Homo sapiens: one gene and its partners. The protein of the gene in region 1 interacts with the protein of each later gene in a pairwise test. Each region holds a gene or a part of one and is shown in the gene's direction. Other genes may lie near its edges.

What was found.
Region 2: the proteins of LGALS7B (region 1) and SSBP1 interact in binary tests that used the Homo sapiens proteins (3 or more experiments, as listed by UniProt).
Region 3: the proteins of LGALS7B (region 1) and TAB1 interact in binary tests that used the Homo sapiens proteins (3 or more experiments, as listed by UniProt).

Annotation. Positions count from the first base shown.
Region 1 is NC_000019.10:38,784,748-38,792,225, forward strand, and holds LGALS7B (galectin-7), read left to right. Parts: upstream 1-4,452; 5' UTR 4,453-4,479; coding exon 4,480-4,485; intron 4,486-4,868; coding exon 4,869-4,957; intron 4,958-5,941; coding exon 5,942-6,143; intron 6,144-6,832; coding exon 6,833-6,946; 3' UTR 6,947-7,007; downstream 7,008-7,478. UniProt on the Homo sapiens protein: Could be involved in cell-cell and/or cell-matrix interactions necessary for normal growth control. Pro-apoptotic protein that functions intracellularly upstream of JNK activation and cytochrome c release.
Region 2 is NC_000007.14:141,748,358-141,750,988, forward strand, and holds the end of SSBP1 (single-stranded DNA-binding protein, mitochondrial precursor), read left to right. Parts: intron 1-1,953; coding exon 1,954-1,997; 3' UTR 1,998-2,131; downstream 2,132-2,631.
Region 3 is NC_000022.11:39,416,780-39,423,779, forward strand, and holds part of TAB1 (TGF-beta-activated kinase 1 and MAP3K7-binding protein 1), read left to right. Parts: intron 1-11; coding exon 12-98; intron 99-931; coding exon 932-1,070; intron 1,071-1,952; coding exon 1,953-2,066; intron 2,067-2,739; coding exon 2,740-2,851; intron 2,852-5,047; coding exon 5,048-5,192; intron 5,193-7,000. UniProt on the Homo sapiens protein: Key adapter protein that plays an essential role in JNK and NF-kappa-B activation and proinflammatory cytokines production in response to stimulation with TLRs and cytokines.

The DNA of each region.
Region 1 (7,478 bases):
TCTGTCCCAACCCACTTTCTCATTTTCACGGCAAATGAACTTATTTTTCTTTTCTTTTCTTTTCTTTTTTTGAGACGGAATCTTGGAGTCTTGCTCTGTTGCCCAGGCTGGAGTGCAGTGGCGCGATCTTGGCTCACTGCAAGCTCCACCTCCCAGGTTCATGCCATTCTCCTGCCTCAGCCTCCTGAGTAGCTGGGACTACAGGTGCCCGCCACCACGCCTGGCTAATTTTTTGTATTTTTAGTAGAGACGGGGTTTCACCGTATTAGCCAGGATGGTCTCGATCTCCTGACCTCGTGATCCGCCCGCCTCGGCCTCCCAAAGTGCTGGGATTACAGGTGTAAGCCACCGCGCCTGGCCTTTTTTTTCTTTTTTGAGACCGAGTCTCGCTCTGTCACCCAGTCTTGAGTGCAGAGGTGCGATCTTAACTCACTGCAGCCTCCGCCTCCCAGGTTCAAGTGATTCTCTTGCCTCATCCTCCCCAGTAGCTGGGACTACAGGCAGGCGCCACGCTGTCGCATTGGCCAGGCTGGTCTCAAACTCCTGACCTCAGGTGATCCGCCCGCCTTGTTACCCAGGCTGGAGTGCAGTGGTGTGATCTTGGGTCACTGTAGCCTCCACCTCCAGGGCTCAGGTGATCCTCCTGCCCTAGCCTCCCGAGTAGCTGGGACTACAGGCACATGCCACCACAATGGATCAAAGGAAACTTTGTGGCTACTAACTGCTCAGGAGTGACAGTGGCTTCATGTGGCAGAAGGAGCAGTGACTGTTTCTAGGGGCACCAGGAAACTTGATTGGGGAGGTGGTTACACAGGTGACTATATGTGTCAAAACTCATTGAACTATTCCATTAAAATCTGAACCCTGAGCAGGGGCTCACACCTATAATCCCAGCACTTTGGGAGGCCAAAGCAGGTGGATCACTTGAGTCCAGGAGTTTGAGAACAGCCTGGACAACATGGCGAAACCCCATCAGTACAAAATAATACAAAAATTAGGCAGGTGTGGTGGCACACTCCTGTAGTCCCAGCCACTCAGGAGGATGAGGTGGGAGGATCACTTGAATCTGGGAGGCAGAGGTTGCAGTAAGTTGAGATCATACCACTGCACTCCAGCCTGGGCGACAGAACAAGACCCTGTCTCAAAACAACAACAACAACAACAAAATCTGAACCTTTTATTTAATGGGAAAAATACCTCAATGAAATAACAATTGGGAAATAAACACATTAGTTATTTAAAACCGAAAAAAGACACACAAATATTACCGTGGCCAGGCCTGTAATCACAACATTTTAGGAGACCAAGGTGGGAGGATCGCTTGAGCCCAGGAGTTTGAGACCAGCCTGGGCAACATGGTGAGACCTCCTCTCTAGGAAAAAAAAAAAAAAAAAAAAAAAAGCTGGGCATGGTGGCGTGCAACTGTAGTCCAAGCTACTCCAGAGGCGGGAGGATTCCCAAGCCCAGGAGGCCAAGGCTGCAGTAAGCCATGATCACAGAGAGAGCCAGACCCTGTCTCAAAAAAAAAAAAAAAAAAAATTATTGCACAACTAATGAGAAAGATAACACAATTGAATAAGAACTCATCAAGGGCTGGATGCAGTGGCTCATGCCTGTAATCCCAGCATTTTGGGAGGCTGAGGTGGGTGGATCACTTGAGGGCAGGAGTTCAAGACCAGCCTGGCCAACATGGTGAAACCCTGTCTCTACTAAAAATACAAAAATTAGCCATGAGTGGTGGCACATGCTTGTAATCCCAGCTACTCAGGAGGCTGAGGCAGGAGAATCACTTGAACCTGGGAAGCAGAGGTTGCAGTGAGTCGAGATCGTGCCACTGCACTCCAGCCTGGGTGACAGAGCAAAACTCTGTCTCAAAAACAAACAAACAAACAACAACAACAACAACAAAAACCCATCAAGGATGCAATCAAGGATGCAGATCTGTTACCAGAAAGGAGTCAGGACTTCAGGCTAATAATAGAGTGAATGGAAAGCTTTGGCCAGTCAGCAAAGGCACGTTGGGACTTGCAGCATGTTGGCTGCATGTGAAGTTACATCCAGCCACAGTGAAGCGATCACTAAAAAGTTGAGTTCCTGGGAAACACGGTACACAGCATGAGGCGTCAGTAATGTGAGGAGTGTGTTCTTTAGAATGGTCAATAATGTTAGAATGATGGAGTTCACCATTCAAGGGAACATTCTCGGGAACTAACTGAGCTGCGCTGGTGGTGTGATCACCGGACACCCTGCTGTCCTCTCTGTCCGTGCCCATGACATGTCCTTGGCACAGACACCCCTGTGGAGCCCAGGGCCTGGCCGCTTCCTTGGCTGAGAAGCTGTCCCTGTCTAGGCCTCAGTTTTGTCTTCTGCAGAATGGGGGTGCTTGCAGCTCCCACTGAAATGCAGCTGCAAGCCTCCCTCTCTGAGCTCACGTCCCTAGGAACTGGTCCCCCACCTTGGTGCCTTGGAGTGTGTGGGGAGGGGGCAAGAGGCTGGGGGCCTGGGACAAAGAGGGTGGAGGATGGTTCTGGGTCTGGTGTCTCCACCCAAACTTTCCACTGCCAGCCTGCCTCTGCCCAGGCCTCTCAGCAGCCTGCTGGGTGGGGCAGGAGTGCAGGAGTTGGGTGGGGAGTGGAAAAGGTCCAGGAGGGCTGCTGCATTGCTAGGAGTGGTTTATTTTTATTTATTTATTTGTTTGTTTGTTTATTTATTTTTGAGATGGAGTCTTGCTCTGTTGCCCAGGCTGGAGTGCAGTGGCGCGATCTCGGCTCACTGCAAGCTCTGCCTCCCGGGTTCATGCCATTCTCCTGCCTCAGCCTCCCGAGTAGCTGGGACTACAGGTGCCCGCCACCATGCCCGGCTAATTTTGTTTTGTATTTTTAGTAGAGACGGGGTTTCACCGTGTTAGCCAGTATGGTCTCGATCTCCTGACCTCGTGATCCACCCGCGTCGGCCTCCCAAAGTGCTGGGATTACAGGCTTTATTTTTATTTTTTGAGACAGAGTCTAGCTCTGTCGCCCAGGCTGCAGTGCAGTGGTGTGATCTCGGCTCACTACAACGTCCGCCTCCCCAGCTCAAGCAATTCTCCTGCCTCAGCCTCCCAGGTAGCTGGGATTACAGGTGTCCACCACCACACCTGGCCAATTTTTTGTATTTTCTATAGAGAAGGGGTTTCACCATGTTGGCCAGGCTGGTCTTGAACTCCTGACCTCAAGTGATCCACCTACCTTGGCCTCCCAAAGTGCTGGGATTACAGGCGTGAGCTACCATGCCCAGCCAGGAGTGGTTTCTGTTCAGCTCCCACACCATCCCTGCCTTTCAGAAACAGATTTCAGTCCTGCCCGCCCCCCCCCCCCCCCCCGCCTCCCCCAGTCTACTTCCCCAACCCTGGATTCTCTTCTAGAGTCTTGGGCCCAAGCGGGCTATATTGGGGCTGGCGGGAGGGTCCCCACCTTGCTCTGCTTTTGATCTAGGTGGTGATGGAATGCTAGGCCACCCACCACCCTAAAACCCACCTCATCCTGACCTGCAAAATTGGTGGGAAGATGGTAACAGTCCTGGAAGGAGGAACAAGAGAGACTTGAAGGAGAGAAGTGGGACAGGAATACGCGGTAGACAGTTATAGACAGAGACAAACAGAGCCAGACAGCCAGCCCCAGAGACAGAACCCACAGGAGAGGCACGCCCAGAGGTGAGGAAAGGCAGAGGTTGGGGCAATGGGTCCTGCCCGGCTTGTGGAAAATCACTTCCCATCCCAGCCTCAGCCTCCTTCTCTGTACAATGGGGGTGACCCATGCTTCTCTCTGTTGGAATGGTGGGGTCCCAATCAGTGATTTCCTGCATATCCTGGGCAGCCCAAGGGCCTGGGAAATGACAAGCGTAGTCCTAGTGGATCCCCTCCTTTCACCCCTCCTGACTGAGGACTTCCCATGAACCCGGCACACTCCAGGACCCAGGGGTGCAGCACTGAGCCAACCAGGCCGCCCTCCGACCCTGTGAAGTCCCCCTGTCTGGCACTATCGTCGTTGTTGTGGCTGCTGTTCCACTGGAGACTTAGAAGCAGGGATTTCAGCGCAGACATTTCCAGTCTAGGCAGGAGGTTCTCAGCTGGAGAGAAGGGTCTAGAGTTCCCGCTGGGCTTGGCTTCTCAGGACCCAACATGTCTGTGGATAAAATGAGCATGAGAGACTCTCCTGTGTGCCAGGCAGTGGGAAGACAGGGGTGGAGGGGCGGTGGCTCTTATTATCAGCTCCTAGGAGAGGGGCAGTGCACCCGGGCTCTGGGTGATGGGGGGATCAGGGCCCCCAAGAAGAGGCGCCACTCCCACTTCGCCAGGCTTGCCCCAGGGCCAGGGTCCGTGCCAGGTGTGGGTGGTGGGTGGGAAGGGGTGGGGTGAGTCATCAGGGCCAGCCCCGCCCTGCTTTTATTTAAGGTCCCCAGCAGGCCCCACCACCACGGCTGCCCAACCCGGTCCCAGCCATGTCCGTGAGTGCTCCAGGGGCCCGGGGCGGGGCCAAGCAGGGAGGGGGCTGGGGGCTCCTCTTTCAAAGGAGCAAGTGGGCAGTGAGTGTGCCACGGACTGGCCTGGGCTGTGGCCTCCGGGTAACCCCCATCCCGACTGTCCCCTCTACCTCTTTGTGGCTTCCTCTGGGGCCCTCTTTGAGGATCTTTCTGTTTGTCTTTGTTGCTCTCCCCATCTGTTTCCCTGTCTGTTTCTGGTCTCTTTCCTGCCTCTCCGCCACCCTTTCCTCTTCCACTGATTTCTGCCAGTCTCAGCCCTGGTCGGCTCCTCTGAGGGGTGACCCACCTTCTGCCTCCCTCCTTCGGTCTCACCGGCTCACAGTGGCCCCTGCACCCCACTCTTGCAGAACGTCCCCCACAAGTCCTCACTGCCCGAGGGCATCCGCCCTGGCACGGTGCTGAGAATTCGCGGCTTGGTTCCTCCCAATGCCAGCAGGTGAGGCCCCAGGCCCTAGGGGTAAAGGGTACAGGTCTCAGGATCAGCTGACTCCCAATTTTTGCAGTCCAGAAGTAGGGGCCCGAGGCCACCTGTATCCACCAGGCTAGGAGTCCGAGGCCATTTCTGACCTCAAATCTGATGTATTCGTATTTGCCCCCGTGCCTTTGTGGCTGGGGTCCCTAAGTTTCCCTAAGCATTTGAGGTCCCTGGGTAATCTCAGGGTTCCTAGATATAGTCCTATGACTTCCATGTCTGAGTCCCAGGGAACTCTGGAAATACTCCAAGTCCTGGAGACACCCTGGACCCTGGGAGTCCTTGCCAAGCCATCCTTTGACTTCCTGGCTAAGGAACTTCGGGCCTTCTGGATTCTGAGGTACCCTGGAAATACTGGGGTTCCTGGTATTATTCTTTGTCCTGTAGAAGCTGAGGGTTCCCTGAGCATCAGGAGCACCCTGGCTATCACCCAGACCTCCTGGGCAGCTCCCAGGCTCTTTGGAAATGAGGGCACCCTGCCCTAAGCGTAGTGAGTTTGGTCTGGGTAGGTTTCTGCCAAGGGCCTCATGATATTTTGGCTGCCTTGGGAATCTAAGCTCCCTGGTCATTAGTCGCCCACCTCTCCTTCTGCGGTGTGTGCCTGTCTTCAGGTCCCTGTTAATTTGGGGGTACTCTGGGAATGGGGAGTGCCAGCCCATAAGACCTTCACTTTGGTCTGGGCGGTTTATGTTTTGTTTGTTCTTTCGTTTTTTTGTAAGGTGGGGTCTCGCTATGTTGCCCAGGCTGGTCTTTAACTTCCGGGCCCAAGCGATCCTCCCTTCTCCACCTCCCAGAGTGCTGGGATTACAGGGTGAGCCACTGCACCCAGCCAACATTTCATTTACTTATTCATTCAAAGTAAATTGTAGACATCGGTATTCCTCACCCTCAACATTTCTTGGTCTGGGTGGTTTCTGAGCCCTGACGGCCACCATCCCCCTCTTCCAGGTTCCATGTAAACCTGCTGTGCGGGGAGGAGCAGGGCTCCGATGCCGCCCTGCATTTCAACCCCCGGCTGGACACGTCGGAGGTGGTCTTCAACAGCAAGGAGCAAGGCTCCTGGGGCCGCGAGGAGCGCGGGCCGGGCGTTCCTTTCCAGCGCGGGCAGCCCTTCGAGGTGCTCATCATCGCGTCAGACGACGGCTTCAAGGTGCGTCTCTGCGACAGGGGCGTGGACGCCAAGACTTAGGTCCCTGGAGCAGAGGGTTGGGCAAAGCCAGGCTATTGGTGGAAGGCAGGGAGGTTCGGGGCGGGGTGAGGGGGGTAGGGAAGTCGTGGCCAAGGCGGAGAAGGGTGTCCTTCGACCCTCTCTCTCGCCTAAACAACTCCCACTTGGGTCCGAGGGACAGAGAGACAGCAGGGTCAGGACGAGGCGAGCACCAGCCAAGTGTCCAAGGGGTGGGCGTCCTAGCGGGAAGGCGTGGCCCAGACTCGCCATCCCAGACCCTACTCCCAGTTCATTCCTTCCTGAGGTCCGGGGTTTGAGGCATGGGGAGGGATGGGTTGGAAACAGCGCCCAGGAACTCGTCCTAGCAAGGATTGGCGGGTGGGAGTGGCGGCAGATCCTCCACCACCCACAGCTTACGCGAATTCACCTCCCTCCTCTGCGCTTTAATAGCGGGTAATGGTCGCTGAAATGAGAATATCCATTACCAGCACTAAAAAAGCCGCTTTTTACTGTGCCACACAGTCAACTCGTTTGATCCTCACGCAAGAGTTAGAATGAACAATAGCCCCATTTTCCCAGTGAGGAAACTGAGGCCCAGAGGGGATGAGTGATTTCCCCAGGGCCACCCAGCACGGGCCTCCGGAATCCTCACCACCGACCCTCCCCTGCAGGCCGTGGTTGGGGACGCCCAGTACCACCACTTCCGCCACCGCCTGCCGCTGGCGCGCGTGCGCCTGGTGGAGGTGGGCGGGGACGTGCAGCTGGACTCCGTGAGGATCTTCTGAGCAGAAGCCCAGGCGGGCCCGGGGCCTTGGCTGGCAAATAAAGCGTTAGCCCGCAGCGCGACTGTGTCTGTGTCCCATTCACTGAGATGAGCAAACTGAGACCCAGAGAGGCCAAGATACTGGCTCCGGGCCACACAGCGAATCCGAGGCGGAGGCGGGCTCTGAGCCTGCCTGTGCTTAGGACACTTTCTGTCTGCGAAGGCGTGAGGGTCGCGATCTGGGAAGGAGTGGGTGTGGGGCGTGCCCTGACGCAGCATTTGTGCAAAGCAAGCCAGCTGGGAATGCGGTCGGGCGGACCTGCTGGCGTTTGGGGCGCAGAGGCGCTCACCGCAGGTCCTGGTGCCCCCACTGCAGATCTAAGGGGCGCCAACATGGGTCCATCTGCAAAGGGGGCGAATGAGTCCCACCTTTCTGGTCATTTGTGGGCCCCAATCCTACGGGTGGAAAGCGTGTTATAAGATCCCGGGTCCCTGGGTCCCGTATCCCCCTGCAGCTCATCTCTCCCACCCTCTTCTCTCCTGGCCTCCCGCCC
Region 2 (2,631 bases), on another chromosome or scaffold:
CATGATTTCTACCTTAAGTCTCTTAGATTTGCCTTTTATCTTTCTTCTTTCCTTTGCTCCAGAGTTCATGTCTTAACCACCATACCTTATTAATAATTTATAATTTGTATAGAATGCTCACATGGTTTCTTACTGCTAAGTTTCTTTGAAAGTGTATTAACCTTGAAAAGCAGTGTAGGTATTTTCCTACCCTCCTGTGGGTCCCAATATAAACCACAAGTGTGGGCAAACTTTAGATTGTTCGGATTATTGAGTTGTTACTAATAAGCCAAACGGAAGCATTTCAGATGATATGCTGTTTTGTTTTTTTTCCTTGTCACTAGGTTCCACTAGCACAGTCAGTTTACTTTAGGTTTATGTCTAATGGTAAAATTGAAGAGCTCTTCAGTGACATTTGAATTGAAGAAAATAGAGTTTATTGGTTGATCTGTTTTATTGGTGATTTTTTTTTCTCCTAGGGATCCTATCTGTAACTAAAAAACCACCACCAGTGGATGGCACTCTTGGCTTTTTCCACAGTGATATTAATTCGAGTAGTTTGTTCTGAAGTAACCGTTCTGGACCAAAACATTCTAGTTTTTGGAAGACTATGGTCATGAACAAATATTCAGTCCTTGGTGGATAATTTTATAGTTACAAGAATCTTTTGGAATTATAAAGGAAATGCAGTCATTCCTCCATGTCCCTTGTTTCTGCATCTGTGGATTCAACCAAGCACAGATTGAATATATGTGAAAAAAAGAAACCAATAAAAATAATACAACAACAACAAAAATACAAGTGAAACAATACAGTGTAACAGCTGTTAACATAGCATTTACCTTGTATTAGATATTGTAAGTAATCTAAAGATGATTTAAAGTATATAAGAGGAAGTACATAGGTTATATGTGATTACTATACCATTTTATATCAGGGACTTGAGCATTGTGGATTTTGGTATCTATAGGGGTCCTGGAACCAGTCCCCCAATGGATACTGAAGGATGACTACTACTTGCCTCTGTTCTTTTGTTTATTTTTAGCTAACTCCCTCTGGAACAGCATTTTAAGAGCAACGTCTGATATTTTTGGATAAAAATGCTAACTCTGTGATGTTGATTCATAAAATGTTCCCAAGAATTGGTATATTAAAATTATTCTGGGCCAGGTGCGGTGCTCATGCCTGTAATCCCAGCACTTTGGGAGGCCAAGGCGGGCAGATCACTTGAGGTCAGGAGTTCAAGACCAGCCTGGCCAACATGGTGAAACCCTGTCTCTATTAAAAATACAAAAGTTAGCCAGGCATGGTGGTGCACACCTATAATCCCAGCTACTGGAGAGGCTGAGGCAGGAGAATCGCTTGAACCCAGGAGGCAGAGGTTGCAGTAAGCTGAGATTGCACCACTTCACTCCAGCCTGGGTGACAGAGACTCCATCTCCAAAGGAAAAACAAAAAGTTATTCTGTATTGTAATTTAAAAATAAAATTTCTTCTATTTGAATTTTTAAAGTTAAAAACGTAAGTAAATCCTGTCATTGCTAACAGGGCCACATATGGACTCTTACTCTTTCCTCTAGACCCCCAGAGTGTAGAATGTGATACACTTTTGTCCTTTTCTCTGAGGATGTGCTGCCTAGTGTCGTGGAATCTGCCTGACCATTGCAAGCATCCAATTTTGTGACCAGTTCTTTTGCAGGAAATTGTTTCTGAGAAGACTGGAAGACAAGAAATATCCCACCTCTTCTAACAAGATCTGAATTGTTCGAAAAGCAGCCAGTGCCTAACTTGTAGCTCCACTTATGCCAACTGTATATATACCTCTCGTGAGCATAGCAAGTGATTTAATATTTTGAAAAGATGGCTAAAATCCTTTTAATGAACAGCACTAAAGTTATATGTATTAGAGGAGAATTATTGAATGAGATGGAGAAAGAGTTCTGAAATTAATATTTACATTTTGGCTTTTTTACAGATAATATTATATTTCTGAGTGACCAGACGAAAGAGAAGGAGTAGAAAGGATGATTCTTCTTTGGCCATCATTTGGTACAGTCTCATTTCCAAGTCATGTATAATCTTTATGGCTTCCAAGGACAAGAATTAAAATACTCTTTTACGTAAAATGAGTAATAATCTTTTTTCTGACTGTCGTTCTCGCTCTCCTTTTTGTGGTATAATCTTGGTAGCTACTATCTGTTATGGCATTTACTAGTTGTTTATTCTTCTAAGGGTGGTTTCTATGTACAGGTATACAAAATAGTAAACTTTCAGGCTCATTTGTGTTATGGCAAAGGGATAAATATGCTTTGGGAAGGTCTCCTGGTTTTTGTATACACTTTTATTACAATATTGATTTGTCCAATCAGTGAATTTACTGAGCATCACTGTATGTGAGACATTTATCCCATATTTGTAAATATTGATTTTCTTAACGTTTTGCTCTGTAGACATGAAGGCAAGGACTGAATCTTCTGTTTGCCTGCACTTTAAACCATGCTTTACATAGAATAGCCACTCAGTAAGCATTGATAGATGAATCATCCCAATGGGATTCTAAGCTTCAGCTCAAATTGAAGGGAGTTGCTGAGCAGTGGTTAGTGTCTAACCTAAACATCTTTAAGACTAACCTACCTTCTTCATATCTTTTGTT
Region 3 (7,000 bases), on another chromosome or scaffold:
TGTCCCCCTAGGCCTTCGATGTGGTGGAGAGGAGCTTCCTGGAGTCCATTGACGACGCCTTGGCTGAGAAGGCAAGCCTCCAGTCGCAATTGCCAGAGGTAATTTCCCCAGCCGACACCCAGGGGAGTCAAGTCCAGGCCCAGCTTTGCAAGGAGCATGGACTCATCTACTTTCTTGACATTACTGGGCCAGAGCAACAGGCGTTAGGGAGCAGTTCCTGATGGGTGACACTGGTGTGTGGCCACAGGTGAGGGACCTCGCTGCTCTGCTGTGGGCAGCTGCATGCTAAAGCTCAGCAGTGTCTGGGCAGTGGTGGACATGAGGAAGGGCTTTTCCCAGTCCTTCGTCCTGAATGGGTCCCCGCCCTTGTCAACCACCTGCTCACATCGCCTACTGCCACCTGCAGCGCTTACCTCTGTGCTGTGAGTTCGGTCATCTCCAGCTTTCTGGAAGAACCTTAGCCTGGAGCTGTAGCGAAGGCTTCATCTTGGCTGTGCCATGGACCATCTGTCTGTCTGTCCCCCGGGCCCTCGGATCTTTGCTCTTAAGAGCAAAGGGAGGCCGGGCATGGTGGCTCACGCCTGTAATCCCAGCACCTTGGGAGGCCGAGGCGGGCGGATCACAAGGTCAGGAGATCAAGACCATCCTGGCTAACATGGTGAAACCCCGTCTCTACTAAAAATACAAAAAATTAGCTGGGCGTGGTGGTGGGCGCCTTGTAGTCCCAGCTACTCTCGAGGCTGAAGCAGGAGAATGGTGTGAACCTGGGAGGCGGAGCTTGTAGTGAGCCGAGATCATGCCACTGCACTGTAGCCTGGGGGACACAGCGAGACTCCATCTCAAAAAAAAAAAAAAGAGTAAAGGGAGTGGAGAGGGCTAGGAAGATGGTCCAGAGTTCTGTCCTGCCCTGACCCTCTGTTGATGGTTGTAGGGAGTCCCTCAGCACCAGCTGCCTCCTCAGTATCAGAAGATCCTTGAGAGACTCAAGACGTTAGAGAGGGAAATTTCGGGAGGGGCCATGGCCGTTGTGGCGGTCCTTCTCAACAACAAGCTCTACGTCGCCAATGTCGGTGAGCCCCCTCCTGTCCCAGGGCAGGGAGGACTGGGGAGAGGTCAGCCACAGGGGTCGGTGCATTATTTGACAATCTGCTTTCCAGACACTTCACGCACTTTAAACCCAGGGTCTCCTGAGACCGTTGGGTATGTCCCTCTCCACAGTGACGCCTCAGTCCCAACTGGAAGGGAGAAAGGACGGGATGGGAGACAGGTGTCCTGGCCTTTAGTCCCTATTCTGCTTCTTAACTCATTCTGGACGAGTCGTATCCCATTCTGGGTGGCCTTGGGGGCCGCTGCTTCTGGAAGAGGTTACCTGGCCATGAATAACCAACCAGTATCCCCATGAACAGCTGCGAGATGGGGCTAGGTGACAGGGACATTGGGGTTTGTGAGAAGACCAGACAGGTGCAGGTTTCAGTAGAAAGGACTCTGTAGAGACCCTTCTGATGATGCTGCCTTTTTTTAATACTCCAGTGGAAAATTTTCCACAATATAGAACAATAGAGTGACTGATATTTAATGAACATTCATGCGCCCATCCCCAATCCCAGCAGTTATCAACTGTGGCCAGCCTTCTTTGTCCCCACGTTCTCTATTTTGAAGCAAATGCCAGACACTGTATCATGTTATCTGTAAATATTTCAGTCTGTATCTCTAGAGAAGAGGTCTGTTTTATTAAGATCATAATCCTATGATTACACTGAAAAAGTTAAACCCAATTCTTTCGTATCACCAGCTGTCCCTAACTGGTGACTCACCCCGTTGGTCTGAGCCTGTTTTGCCCATTTCAGGTATTTCCATGTGTGAAATGCCTGCCTTTTCCCTCTCTGCCTTCCCGGTATGCCCTATTTCTCTCTGTGTGTAGTCTTTGCTTAGCTGTTCACATTCTGCCACAGGTACAAACCGTGCACTTTTATGCAAATCGACAGTGGATGGGTTGCAGGTGACACAGCTGAACGTGGACCACACCACAGAGAACGAGGATGAGCTCTTCCGTCTTTCGCAGCTGGGTGAGTGGGGAGAGTGGGAGCGGAAGCTGATCCCCATGGGCTCACCCTTCGCCTGCCTTTGGTGGTGGGGTAGAGAGGCGTGTGGTAGAGGGGCTGTGATCTTGGGCTCCCCAGCCAGCCTGCCTGGGGTTCATTCCCAGCACTGCCGCTTACTGGTTGGTGATTGGAACTTAAGTTTTCTGTGCCTCAGATCCCCCGCTGTGTAATGAGGATAATAGTAACCTACCTCGGGATGCTAGGAGGATTCAGTTAGTGCATGTGAAATGCTTCCTGGAGTGCCTGGCACACAGAAGACACTTACTGTTATTGGTGGAGACTGAAAGAGGCCAAAGAAGTCCAGGGAGCCCAGCTGCTGCTGAGCTGCTCCTTCCCTTCCCAGTGAGCTCCAGGCAGATGTGGGGCACACGGGATGGGCAGGGAGACGGCAGGCAAGCTGCTCCGTGCCAGGTGGTGCCTGGAGGACGGGCTCTGAGTGAGGTGTGTCGTGATGGGCGTGGGGACTGAGGACACCAGGGACTTTGGGTCAGCTGCTCTCCCAGGTGCCCTGGTGTTGTCTTCATTTCCTATTCAGTGGGTCCTTATTGCCTTCTTCCCATGACTGTGTCTCTGTCCCCTTCTTTTTGTTCCTCTTTGTGAACAAGAAGCAGGATTGTTGCACTGTTTCCCTCCGTAGGCTTGGATGCTGGAAAGATCAAGCAGGTGGGGATCATCTGTGGGCAGGAGAGCACCCGGCGGATCGGGGATTACAAGGTTAAATATGGCTACACGGACATTGACCTTCTCAGGTAGGTGCCAGCCCAGCTGTCCCCTGTGCTTGAAAGAACAGAAGGTCCTAGGGAGGCCAAGATGGGAGGATTGATTGTGCTGGGAGGTCGAGGCTGCAGTGAGCCGTGATCATGCCACTGCACTCCAGCCTGGGCAACAGAGCAAGACCCTGTCTCAAAAAAAAAAAAAGGTCCAGAAGGCCTGGGGCAGACGCAGACTGTAGGCCCCAGTGACACATGTGCAGTCAAAGTAGTTCAGAGCCCAGGCAAACTCTTTCTTCCTCCCAGAGAGGTTGGTTTGGGGCAGGTTAGGCCCAGCAGGCCAGGAGTTGGGTACTGTAGAAACAAGGGGTGGAGTTGAGCTGGGCCAAAGCTGAGGGCAGCAACTAGTGCCACAAGGGAGGCAGGCGAAGCCAGAGTTGGCATGGGATGGACAGACCAGGCCTGTTGGTCGGTGCTGCCCATGGCTGCAGCAGAGGTGTGAGATGAATTGTGTATTTCCCTCTGAGGACACCTCCTCTGGACATCACCCCAGCGCTCATGGCAGCAGAATGGGCAGTCATCATCACACGGCCAAGCCCGTGCAGAGCTCTGGATGTACCTTCTTTTATGCATTCCCTACTCAGGCCCCCTGAGGCAGTCACTGCCATCACCCCAGAGGCATTTTCATAAGAGGAAACTGAGGCATGGAGACATCAGGCAGCCCACCCTGGTCATGGGGCTTGAACACAGGCAGCCTGAATTTGGAATATGTGTCCTTAACCGTCAGGTAACCTGTATGTGAAGTGTTGGTTGGGGAGATAGGCGCGTCCACTTGCCTGATGCCAATCATGGCATTTAATGTCATGGCCAAGGCTGTTCCCAAAGCCAGAGTTCCCATCAACAGAGGCCTCATGGCCTAGAAAGTGCATGTTAGAACTCCTTGCCCTCACGCGATCTAGGCAACTGAGTGTCGAATATTTGTCCCTAATTTGTGGGGTCCTGTTTCCTTTATTGGAAAGGACATCCATAGTTTAAAACACTTCAGACAGTGCTGGGGTCTATACAGGGAAAGGAAGTCTTCCTACACCACACTCTAGGACTCGCTGCCTCCCCAGAGGCTGCTAGTTTCTTGTGTATCCTGTTCCAAAATCTGGCCACATGCACATATACACACACGGTGTCTCTGTGTGTGTGTGTGTGTGTGTGTGTGTGTGTGTGTGTGTGTGTTTGTCCTGGGGGCCAAGGAGCCTGCATCCTTTTCGGAACACCCAGGTGCTGGGGTGTCTCTCTCTGTGTGTGTGTGTGTGTGTGTGTGTGTGTGTGTGTGTGTGTGTGTTTGTCCTGGGGGCCAAGGAGCCTGCATCCTTTTCGGAACACCCAGGTGCTGGTGTGTCCTGCCCCTCCCAGGTGCTGGTGTGTCCTGCCCCTCCCAGGTGCTGGTGTGTCCTGCCCCTCCCAGGTGCTGGTGTGTCCTGCTCCTCCTTCTTTTCTTTTTTTTTAAACCCTAAGGTGTAATTGGCATATGCAAAGCTGTGCCTATTTCATGCATACAACTTGATGAGTTTGGAGATATGTTTACACACCCCTCACTGCTATCATTAAAGGTGCTCATCTCTTCATTCTGCTCACCTGCAGTTAGGATGGCGTCATTCTGTGTAATAACCGCTCCCAGGGCCCAGCCCTGGCTGACGGACCCTCAGGAAGTTCTTAGACTCCGCTCTTCTGGATGGTGTTGCCAGCACCTCCTCATGTACTTACCTCCATGTGCACACACATGTGTTGGCATGTAATGACTCTGACCCCAGTCACTAAAGGATCCCTGTACACATGGAGAGTATCTGGGGTCTCAGCCATCTGTTTTGGAAAAGCCCAAATAATAGCAAGAGGCTTGGGCTCCCAGGGATAATCCCTCCCTCTTGCTGTCCCACACCCTGCCCTGCCACCACCGGACCCTGTGAACAGGACGTATGGAACAGGCCAGAATCGGGCATTCAACCTTTGCCATCCTGACCTCAGCTGCCTGCCAGTTTTTATGGCCTTCCAAGCTTTATTTTAGCAGCTGCTGTAAGACGATGGGTCTATTTTTCTGACCTTCTCTTTCTCTCTTTTCTTTTCCTCTTGTCAGGTTGTGTGTTTTATTTTACATTCTGGGCATAGATTCCTCCCCTCAGCAGAATCAGCATCCACCTGCGGGCTGTTCCAAGCAAAGCTCTTCCTTCCACTCTCTCCCCATAGCGCTGCCAAGTCCAAACCAATCATCGCAGAGCCAGAAATCCATGGGGCACAGCCGCTGGATGGGGTGACGGGCTTCTTGGTGCTGATGTCGGAGGGGTTGTACAAGGCCCTAGAGGCAGCCCATGGGCCTGGGCAGGCCAACCAGGTGAGTTGGGCCCAGCCACGCCCATGGCCGGAGAGCGTGGCTGGCCTGCATGGTGATGTGCTCACCCTGCCTTCTAGCACTGTGATTCTCGGAGGCCGTCACCAGACATCTCTGGGTTCAAAGCTGGGGGAAGGAGAATCCCAGAGCTCTGAAAACACCCATCCCACCCAAAAACTTGACTCATTTTAGGCTTGAAGCAGTGCCAGTCCTCAGGGCCTGAGCAAGGTCTGAAGGGAAGAGGGGGAGATGGATGTGAATTGCTATGGGCACGGCATTACTCTGAGACGGCCAGGAAGGGGCCAGGGCCAGGAGGAGAGCACAGAAAGAGATGTGCAGAGTCCTTCCCACACCCATCACTTCCTGCCAAGGGCCTGACGGCTTTACTGCCCTCCCTGAGTGGCAGACAATTTATAGTTTGCTTCTCATTTCTTTTTTTTTTTTTTTTTTTTTTTTTTGAGACAGCGTCTCCCTCTGTCACGCAGGCTAGAGTACAGTGGCATGATCTCGGCTCACTGCAATCTCCGCCTCCCGGGTTCAAGCAGTTCTCTGCCTCAGCCTCCCAAGTAGCTGGGATTACAGGTGTCTGCCACCACGCCCAGCTAATTTTTGTATTTTTAGTAGAGACAGGGTTTCACCAGGCTGGTCTCCAACTCCTGACCTTGTGATCCACCCACCTCAGCCTCCCAAAGTGCTGGGATTACAGGCGTGAGCCACCGCGCCCGGCAGTTCACTTCTCATTTCTACAGTGAGGATGGTAACATCTGCCTTTGTGAGATCGCAGTGAGGTTAGGCGTGGTAGACACAGGCCCTCAGCCAAGAGTTGCTTATTTTTCTTATACCTTGGAGTCACCAAAGTGTGACTTCAAGACAGTCACGTTAGGGATGGTCTCAAAGGAAAACTGTCTTTCCCTGACCTCCTTGGATTGCTGACTGGCTAAGATAAGTTCAGTTTGTGTTCCTCCTCCTTTCTGTGATTCTTGTAGGAAGATAACCTTTTCTGCTTTGACTTTTTTTTTTTTTTTTTTAAGACTTGCTGTGTCACCCAGACTGGAGTGCAGTGGCGTGATCACGGGTCACTGCACCCTCAACCTTCTGGGTTCAACCGATCCTCCAGCCTTAGCCTCCTGAGTAGCTGGAACTATAGGTGTGTGCCACCACACCTGGCTAATTTTGGTTGTTTTCTTTGTTTTGTTTTTTTGGTAGAGACAGGGTCTCACTGTATCGCCCAGGTTAATCTCAAACTCCTGGTCTCAAGTGATCCTCCTACCTTGGCCTCCCAAGATGCTGGGATTGTAGGCATGAGCCACTGTGCCCAGCCTGCTTTGTCCTTTTTAATTAAAAATCATGTATTGGCCGGGCACAGTGGCTCATGCTTGTAATCCCAGGACTTTGGGAAGCCGAGGCAGGCGGATCACTTGAGGTCAGGAGTTCGAGACCAGCCTGGCCAACATGGTGAAGCCCCGTCTCTACTAAAAATACAAAAATTAGCCGGGTGTGGTGGCAGGCACCTGTAATCCCAGCTACTCAGGAGGCTGAGGCAGGAGAATCGCTTGAACCCGGGAGGTGGAGGTTGCAGTGAGCCAAGATCGCACCACTGCACTCCAGCCTGAGCAACAGAGCAAGACTCTGTCTCAATCAATCAATCAATATCATGAGGAAAAAGTCTTCTTTAAAATTTGAAAATTAATTTTTATTTCAGTAGCTTTTGAGGTACCAGTATTTTTTTGTTATAGGGATGAATTATGTAGTGGTGAATTCTGAGATCTTAGTAAACCAGTTATTCCAGTAGTGTACATTGTAAGTAATGT